Linked DNA regions of Homo sapiens. The protein of the gene in region 2 purifies or fractionates together with the protein of the main gene of each other region. This does not show direct contact. Each region holds a gene or a part of one and is shown on either strand. Other genes may lie near its edges.

Region 1 (3,877 bases), on a different chromosome or scaffold from region 2:
AGCCTGAGAAGCCTGCTGGGGCTTCAGATCTGGGGGACCCAGAGTAGAGGTGTAGGTGGGAGGGCCTGGCCAGCCCCAGGCCTGCTACTCCTCCCCAACCCCACCGCAGCCTGAGAAGATACATACTGACCCTCAGGTGCCGGGGGCATGGCACTCAGATCCACGGGCTGCCCCTTCTCCAGGGCCTCCAGGACAGCACCGAATCTCTGCAGAAGTTGGAAAAGCAGGTGTGGGTGAAAGACAGGGGACCCCAAGAGCCTGGGCTGAAACAACCCCCACTTAGGCCAATCTCACTCAATCTCAGTCTAGCTCCCTTTCTGAGCCTGTTTCCCCTATCTATAAAATGAGGGTGGGTGCCCTGAGCCAGATGCCATACCTTCCCAATCCTCATGAGCTCTCGGGCACGGTCTAGCTCTCCAGCCCGCTTGGCACTGAGGGCAGCCACTTTGTACTCTCTCTGTCGGGATGACAGCAGGGCCCGCGGGTCTGGGTCTAAGTCTGAAACGGGCTGGGCAGAAATGCCAGGGAGGCTGGTCTCAGGTTGGGAGGGGTTGTCTATAAGGAAACAAACAGTCCCCAGAGAGCACATGAGGGTCACAGAAGAAGGTGCCCACGGACTTCACTGGCTTGAGGATGTCCTGGGGAGGATGTGACCAATGGTAATGAACAGTGGTGGCAGGCTGGGGACACACGCTGTGGGCTATGACCCCAGGAACTAGAACAGGATTTGGGCATCTGCAGATACCTGACTCCAAGGCAGGGGGAGCTGGAGGGTCTGTCTCAGGGCTCCTGTTGGCTGGTTCCTGGGGGGCCAGGGGCCGCTTTCCTAAGGCCACTGGAGGTGGGATCTCATCCTCATTGATCTTTCTGCCTCTCCTCACAGAGGCTAGCTGCGACTCCAAGGTCTGAGGGAGAGAACTGGTCCAGAAACCCAGCCAGCCATCTCAGCCCAGACCCTGCTCCAAGACAGGCCAGGGGTGGCCCCCCAACCCCCAAAGTCTGGTGGGGTGACCTCCCCTCCACTGGTGCGATCTCCACCAGCCGCCTTTCATGCAGCCCCCTCCCCTGCCCTGCTCCCAGCCTAGCCCGACTCACCTTCAGGCCGCGCTCGCAGCGCCTGGCTTTGGCTGCTTCGCCTGCCTCCTTGGCACTGGCCGCAGCCTCTCGGTAGTTGTGAATCCGTTCCTCCAGCAAAGCGTGTAGCCCCTGAGATGCTCCGGCCTATGAACAATTCAGCTAAGGGCCTGGCCACTCCAGGGCCTGCTAGGCCTACCATTCTCCCTCTGCGGAAGCTGCCCTAGAAGATGGAGCTCTGGGACTCCAGGAGAAAGAAGAGCCTAAAAGCCTTAAGGCAGGAAGCAAAGGCTCACTGGAGAGGCCAGAGGCCATGGCAGAGGCAAATACAGAGCCCCACTTGGTGGAAGCCAGGATATGGCTCCCGGGGGGTAGTCTAGGAGAACAGAGAGGCCTTTGAGGCTGGCTGCCACGGAGGAGTTTCTTGTGCTCAGTTTCTGCTTGGGGCGGCTGCTGGGGGAGGGTCCTGGAAAGGGTGACTGCAGCCTTGCTGTGCAGGCCAGGCCACACACGTGTTACGTCTGGGCGCACAGGAGCATCAGAGGCACAGGGGCCCTCCTCCAGAACCCACCTGAGCTGCTGGGGCTGAAGCTGTCAGGACGGCTGTCTGCACTGGAGGTTCAGTGTCTTCTAGGCCGTTCTCCTCCTCAGAGCCGCCTGGGTCAGCTACCTCATCACCATCCAGGGGCTCAGTCTCCTCGTCCACACCTAAGACCTCCTGCAGCTCCGTCTAGGGAGACAAAACACAGCCCAGGAGCTTGGGGGCCTCAAGACCATACCCACAACAGGACCTGAGAGTAAAGGACCCTCTCTCTCAGCAATATTCCCTAACGTCAGTCACTGTGCCTGAGTCCCCTTCACCAAAACATTTCTTTAATCTGACCGAGGATAGCCTTGAAAATAGTAATTACTCCAAATCTGAGAATCCCCAACTGCAGAGCTTAGACCAGAAGTCAAAGAGACACGCCACCCACTGTACAGCCAGGAGGGGCAAGCACTCACTCAGAGTCAGAGAATACAGGGGCACCCCCAGCCTCCTCTCCACTGCCCTCTCCTCCACCAGGCCCAAGCTTGCCTCAGAGCCCTGGGATACCAGCCTGGCAGACACACCAGCAGCTCTGCATCTTCCTCCAGCCCTTCCTCCTCCTCCTCCTCCTCCACATCCCGCATACAGTCTGCCGCCAACTTCTCGATGTGGGCCATGGGCAGGGGGGCTGGGGGAAAAAGGTCACAACAAGTCAGCACAACTCAGATAAGTTCAGGGATGAGTAAAGGAGGGGCTTGGTAGATCCACCCAGGCAGAAATCCCTCTTCCCTCCCACAGCAGAGTCCCACCTGGAAAACTGCTCTTCCTTTAAGACCCAGTTCAAAAGACCCTCAACAGGGAAACCTTCCTTGGCCCCCCACCAAGCAACAAGCTGCTCCTTTCTCTGCACCTCTGCCTACGGTAGCCTGACATAGACATGGCCATCCACTCTCTCCAACCTCCAACAACACCTTTCACATCTGTAAAGATTTTCAAAGTCCAACAGAGCTTCAAAACAAATCTGCAAGATGGATAATATCCCCTTTTCATATATTGAATAAACTGAGAAACTTCCAACATTAATTTTCCTATCACTGCAATCCTTAAGTGGCAGAGCTAGGATTCAAACCTAGGCTTGTGCCACCCCAAGGCAGGAGCAGTGAGCCCCTTCCTAGGTCCTCCCATTATCCTCAACTCAGGGACACACAGGATGGTGGGGGATGAGTGGGGGGATTCTCTGAGGGTTCCCGGTGAAAAGAGAGGACGATTTAGACCTCCTGATCCTCCCAGGCCTGAAGTCTCTGTTCTCATCTGGGCTGTGGAGGGAGATTCCACTTAACTCGCTGGACACAATTTCTATGTACTTCCTATGTACCCAGTTCAGTCTGTGCTAACTGGGCCCCTACCCTACACCAATACCGTGGCTAGGGCTAAGGATGGGGACCTGAGTCAGTCTGAGAAACACATTTGTCCACAATGGGGAGGGGCCAGCCCAGGCCATGACACAAGGTGGGGAAGCAGGGCGAGGCCGCCTCTTGGTGGGAGTGCGGCAGATGGGTATTGGAAGGACCAGGGGATCTGGCTGGCTCCGTCCAGCTGCAAGGGAACCCCTCTACCACCAGCCTGTGCCCATCTTGTCCCAGCACCAAGACCAGCCCTGTGTCCAAACTCACCCTGCCCCTTGGGTGCTGGCTTCTTGCCTGTGGTTTGTGCTTCCCCTGTGAGAGCCAGCAGCTCAGCCTCCAGGTCCTCATCATCTTCAGCCTCATCCATGCCCAGCAGCATGTCCTCAGGGCCAAACTCCATAAAGAGCCCCATCTGAGAGCAGAGCAGGACTCTTAGGAACCACACAACAAGCAGGGTAGGGTCCAGCTCCAGAGCCAGACTTGGGGCTCTCCAAGTCCCAATCAGTGGCTCCTTCAGTCTGTGAGGCCCAATGTGCAGAAAGAAACTGAGGCCTGCAACATTACTCCTTGAGACACTTACCTTCCTAGGGACTCAACAAAAAACCCAGTAAGACCACACTGAAACTGAGACAGTCTTGTGAGTCAGAATTTAAAACACACTACCATTATTACAACCAACAGCAATAGCTGCCATCATGCACTGTTCTTAGCGTTCTATGTGATTATCTTAACCACCTCAGTTAATTCTCACAATTCTGAGAAGAAGGTCCTATTTTTTGGCCAGGCGCGGTGGCTCACGCCTGTAATCCCAGCACTTTGGGAGGCCGAGGCGGGTGGATCACGAGGTCAGGAGATGGAGACCATCCTGGCT
Region 2 (5,379 bases):
AAGAAAATTGCCTGTAAATTATCACATCAAATCTATTAATCTTTGATGCCTAACTGTATTGTAGAGAAGCTCTTTAGTATTCAGAATGCTTCAATAAGTTAAAAAATTATCTATAGTAGTGATCTAAGAATAATGTTTTAGACAAAACAATAAAGAATGATATCCTCTCCCAACAGAATTATGCTTCTCATGCACCAAAGATCCTGCTGCTGTAATAACCACCAACAACCATTTTATAAGGTGCATTTGCAGGTTTCAACTCCTATTGTACATACATCCTCTTATTTCTTATAGCAATTCTCTAAGTTTTTTTTAGAGGATGTTTAGAGTTTTTAGAGTAGAGCAGGGTTTTGGTTTTTGTTTCTTTCTAATTAAAAAATATATATTACTGACTTTCAAAAATATATTACTTTCAAAAACTGTACAAGTAACACTCATCTTTTAAAGTAGGGAATATCAGTATTTATAAGACATTTTGTAGTTGAGAAAATTGATGTTCATAGACAATAATGTGCCCAAGGCCACACAAGGCCTTATAGTTAGTGACAGGGTCAAATTAGACCATGCACTATTGATTCCCAGTAGCTTCTCACGAAGCAAGACCTTACTGCATGAATGATGGCATATTTTCACAGCTACTGAAAAATAAGTTAATAAGGTATATAATTCACCTCAAATACTAAAATGCAAAAATACATTTACTTGGTAAAATTCTCTCCAATAAAATAACTATAAAAGTTGTTAAAAATTCAAGTACTCCATAAGTTTCTGTTTTTCTTCCTTTCTAAAAATGAAAATAAGTGTTTAAAAATGTATGCATTTCGGAGGTATCAACCACTTAACCCTATCAAAAAGCCTCGAGCTAATGAAATAATTATGAGCTGAAAAATCACTGAGATACCTCTCTTGAATCAGAGAAGATCTTTTTGTTGACTTAGTGATGACCTCTCAATTATTTCTGAGACTAAAAAAAGAAAGAAGAATCTATTGAACATCGGTGGGAAAATGCAATTTGAGAAGGTTTCTTTCTGTGTACATGTTTTTCCTAAGTTATAGGTTTGCCCTACTCTGAAACTGTAGTGTTCCTTCAGGGACTCCTTGTGAACCCTTAATTTCTCAAATTAATGATTGTGCTTCAAATGTATTTTACAGTATTAATCACAAGAGATTGAGGAAAAATAGGTATACAATAATGTTTGTGAAATGTATGAACAAACAAATTTTAAAAGATTACAAATAAAAAGACATGAGGCTTGGGTAAAGAAAAATTTCTTTATATTATGGCGAAAATATAAGAAGAATGCTGCCCCTCCAATCGTATGTAAATATTCAAGAAGTAAACTCGCCAGACTATATTGTGCTTGCCTTTAGAGTTTTACATGCTCCAGAAAAAGTGAGAAATTATCAAGACACATAGGCTTCACAAATGAGAGCTTTGAGAAAACGCATGTCATAAAAATACAATATAAACATATAATGGAGGCATTTCCTCAGTGAATTTTTAACCCAATTCTTTAAAATATCATTTACTCTTTTTACTAGAAAAAAAATTTCCTTTAAAAGCAAAAGTCTAGAGAGCCTAGATTACAATACCATAAAAATAAGCCACGCATCAATTCCACAGTTACTTAGTTTTATGTGTTGAAAAGCTTTTAACATAAACTCAGATGGGAGTTACGGATTTTAGAGATTTCTTGCTCTTCTACATAGACACTTTTTTTAGTGTAAATTCTATTTCTAGACCATCTTCATTAAAAAGTGAACACAGATTACCATCTTACCATTGTCATCTACCACACGGGTTTGATCTTTACAACAATCTACTGGCAATCCAATAATTTCAACTTCAACAAAAGGGTCAATGATCTATTAAGTAAAGAGAAAGTACTATTACAAATAACATATTTCTATACATATGTTAATTAATCTGAGAATATTGGCCAAAATGTCTACATTTCGACAGCAACTGATTTTACAAGGTGCTTAGTAAGAAAAAGAAATGGTACTAGGTGTGGTGGATTCAGATATATGAGACAAGTATAAAAAATATTAAATTACTGTTTGCTAGTATTTATTAACGCCAACAACTTTACCCACTGAACCTACAACTTTAGTTCAGGGCAAATACCAAACAGAACTGAGATGTTTTGCCCATGCACAAATGCTGAGAGCAGCTGTATCTATAATAGTCAAACACTGGAAACAACCTAAATTTCTATCATGAGTAGGATGGATAATTGTGGAATATACGTTTTTTGTTTTTTGTTATTTTGTTTTTTGAGATAGGGTCTTACTCTGTAGCTCAGGTCGGAGTGCAGTGGCATGATCTTAGCTCATGGCAGCCTCCACCTCCCAGGTTTAAGCCATCCTCCCACCTCAGCCTCCCGAGTAGCTGGGACTATAGGATTGTGCACCACACCTGGCTAATTTTGGTAATTTTTGTAGAGATGGGGTTTTGCCATGTTGTCCAGGCTGGTCTCAAACTCCTGAGCTCAGGCAATCTGCCCACCTCAGCCTCTCAAAGTGCTGGGATTATAAATGTGAGCCACCGTGCCTGGTCAGAAGTATGTGTTCAATGAATACTCTCAACAATGAGAAAAGAATAAAGTTCTCCTATATAACATAACGTTGAGCAAGCCAGACATAAAAGAGTACCTACTCTAAGAGTCCATTTATATAAAGTTTAGGAATAGACAAAATTTGTCTGCTGTGATAGGGGTTGGTGTTTGCTATGAGAGGCAGTGGGGAGGGTAGATATTGACTGGGAAGGTGGACAGGAGCCTTCTAGGGATTCTGGATATACTCTGCCTTGATCTGGGTGGCATAATAATTAATCAAGCTATGCATGTTTGATTCTTATACTTTAATTCCCATCCTCTCCTCTAGGGGGAAATATCTTGTATTGTTGGTCATCTGTAGACTCTCCTTTCTGGTACCAGTTCTGGGCGACGAACAATGAAGGAATAAAACCCAAAGAATCTAGAAAGAGCTGACCTAAGAAAGTCTAAAGCAGAGAAAGTAGACTTCTTAAAGCATTTATGGCGGTACCAAATTGTAGAGCTCTGTGATTTCCTTCCTTAAGATCCAAAAATGATGGTTTAATAGGCGGGAGTGACAAAGAACCTGAAGTAATGGATCAGCTCTGAGAGGAAGGGCATGAGCATAGGAGAAGCTGCTATATAGCGAGAAAACAGAAGCCAAGAAGGTATAATGGAAACAATGGGCTAAGAGCTCTGGAAAGAAAAAAGACTGTGGCCGCAGATGAAGACATTTTAAAATCACGCGACACAGGTACAGCAGATGATAATAAGAATCAGCACATGGCCAAGGAGCAGGTGGCTGATGTGCAGCAGGGAGGAGCATTGCAGGAGGACAGGAATGTGAGGTTATATTATTAACGGAACATTGCCTTTCTAGGTTAAGATATACTCTTAGGTGTTGTTCTGTTAATAATATAATTGTCTTTGCACTCCAATTTTAGCAATGCTAGTGTCAACCTTAAATTGTGAATTCAATTGTGTGCTCTTATGCCTTCAAAATAGATGATGGACAGCAGTACAGCAAGAACTGTGTGACTTACCAATAAATCAGTTAATGTCTGATAAGCTGAGGTCAGTGCTCAGTTATGAACACACATACATCTCTGAAGACATTTCGGATAAAATGTAAATGCACTAAGATAATCACATAATTAACCACTTAGACACGTAGTCATAGGCAACTTACCTCGCCTCGATCTCCAAACATGGAGTCTGGAGGTTTGGGGAGTTGCTGTCCACTGATAACTTTCAGGATGAGCTGCTTTTTGGGGTTGGCAGGAAGAGGGTCACCAGAGAAAGGGTTGAAAGTACCTAGGCCAAGTAAAGTATAAGTTGGTAACATAAGAAGAAACACACACGCATGCACAGCTTAAGCTTGTAAACAAAGAAACAAACAAACAAAAACAAATGCTGAATTACATGATCACATAACTATCAGTGTGGCATAGCTGTGGTTTTCATTAGAAACCATGTTGCCAAAGGCCAGTGGAGTGGGCCAACTTAAAGCAAGTGTTTGCAATGCAATGATCAACTGTGGAATGAAGGAAGAGAAGCATTTTATTTGAACACCAACAGTGTAAAAAGAAGAACAATTATGTCAGATTCAAATAATTTTCTAACCTAAACTATCTCAGGCATGAGTGAATATAACAAACAGAAAGAAGACTTGAAATTAAGTAAACAGCAGAGCAAGAAAATGTGCAAAGTGTAAAATCTTGAAGATAATCCTGTCAACAACTTTTTTATCTGAATTGTTATATATGTAATTTGGAAATTTTAAAAATAATTTTAATGAGCAGAACCAAAAGAAAGTGTTGTTTGATCTAACACATTATCCTTTTTTTGCTTTGTTTTGTTTCTTTTGAGATGGAGTCTCACTCTGTCACCCAGGCTGGAGTGCAGTGGTGTGATCTTGGCTCACTGCAACCTCTGCCTCCTGGGTTCCAGCGATTCTCCTACCTCAACTTCCCAAGTAGCTGGGACTACAGGCACGCACCACTATGCCCAGCTAATTCTGATTTTCAGTAGAGACGGCGTTTTACCATGTTGGCCAGGCTGGTCTCAAACTCCTGACCTCAGGTGATCCGCCCACCTTGACCTCACAAAGTGCTGGAATTACAGGCGTCAGCCCCCATGCCCAGCCTATCCTTTCTCTTTTGTTAGCACTGTTTTGTAATTGGACTACACTGAGTAAAAGGGCTTGATAAAATTGTTTCAGGTGGAATTGAAGCTTCCCAGCAGGTCACAGACTCACATTACTTAAGATAGTTTCTGAAAGATTGGGCTCAGACCTTAAAAAGCAGTCCAGCTTATATGGGGCACTGGATTTCAAGTGATAACCCAATGCTATCCATGTCCCTCTTTCACACACGACCTCTCAAGATAACATTCTAAACATCACGGCTAACCAAATATTAAGTAGTGGTGACAAGAATTCTAATTCACATTCAAACACCTTAACCTATCTTTTTGAAAAAAAAAAGTTGAAAAACTCTGGGGTATCACACTTTCTAAACAGCTTCCTTAATAAAGGTTGCCTGCATTTAGACTATGAAATTAACACACACCTGCATTTATGACTATGAAATTAATACACACCTTTGCACATTTGCTGGGGTTTGAGGACATAGCCACAATTGCCATTTGCCTTGAATTTGGCTCGGTTTAACTGCATCATTCGTCCTTCAGATTGATAATTCAGTGCCACTGTGCAAGTTGAAAGTGGGAGAGAATTAGGCAAGATGGTGGCATAGTGAGAATATACAGAGAACCACTCCTTCCCAAGGAATACACACCTAGCTGGCAGCCTGCGTTCCAGTAGGGGAGAGGGTTGAAGTTA

What was found.
Region 1: the proteins of PLCH1 (region 2) and CC2D1B fractionate together in Homo sapiens (co-fractionation; one large-scale study listed by BioGRID). This does not show direct contact.

The regions. Positions count from the first base shown.
Region 1 is NC_000001.11:52,359,329-52,363,205, forward strand, and holds part of CC2D1B (coiled-coil and C2 domain-containing protein 1B), read right to left. Parts: intron 3,419-3,877; coding exon 3,274-3,418; intron 2,289-3,273; coding exon 2,185-2,288; intron 1,805-2,184; coding exon 1,646-1,804; intron 1,222-1,645; coding exon 1,096-1,221; intron 906-1,095; coding exon 746-905; intron 556-745; coding exon 377-555; intron 207-376; coding exon 131-206; intron 30-130; coding exon 1-29. UniProt on the Homo sapiens protein: Transcription factor that binds specifically to the DRE (dual repressor element) and represses HTR1A gene transcription in neuronal cells.
Region 2 is NC_000003.12:155,489,003-155,494,381, forward strand, and holds part of PLCH1 (1-phosphatidylinositol 4,5-bisphosphate phosphodiesterase eta-1), read right to left. Parts: coding exon 5,336-5,379; intron 5,247-5,335; coding exon 5,139-5,246; intron 3,852-5,138; coding exon 3,727-3,851; intron 1,867-3,726; coding exon 1,782-1,866; intron 1-1,781. UniProt on the Homo sapiens protein: The production of the second messenger molecules diacylglycerol (DAG) and inositol 1,4,5-trisphosphate (IP3) is mediated by calcium-activated phosphatidylinositol-specific phospholipase C enzymes.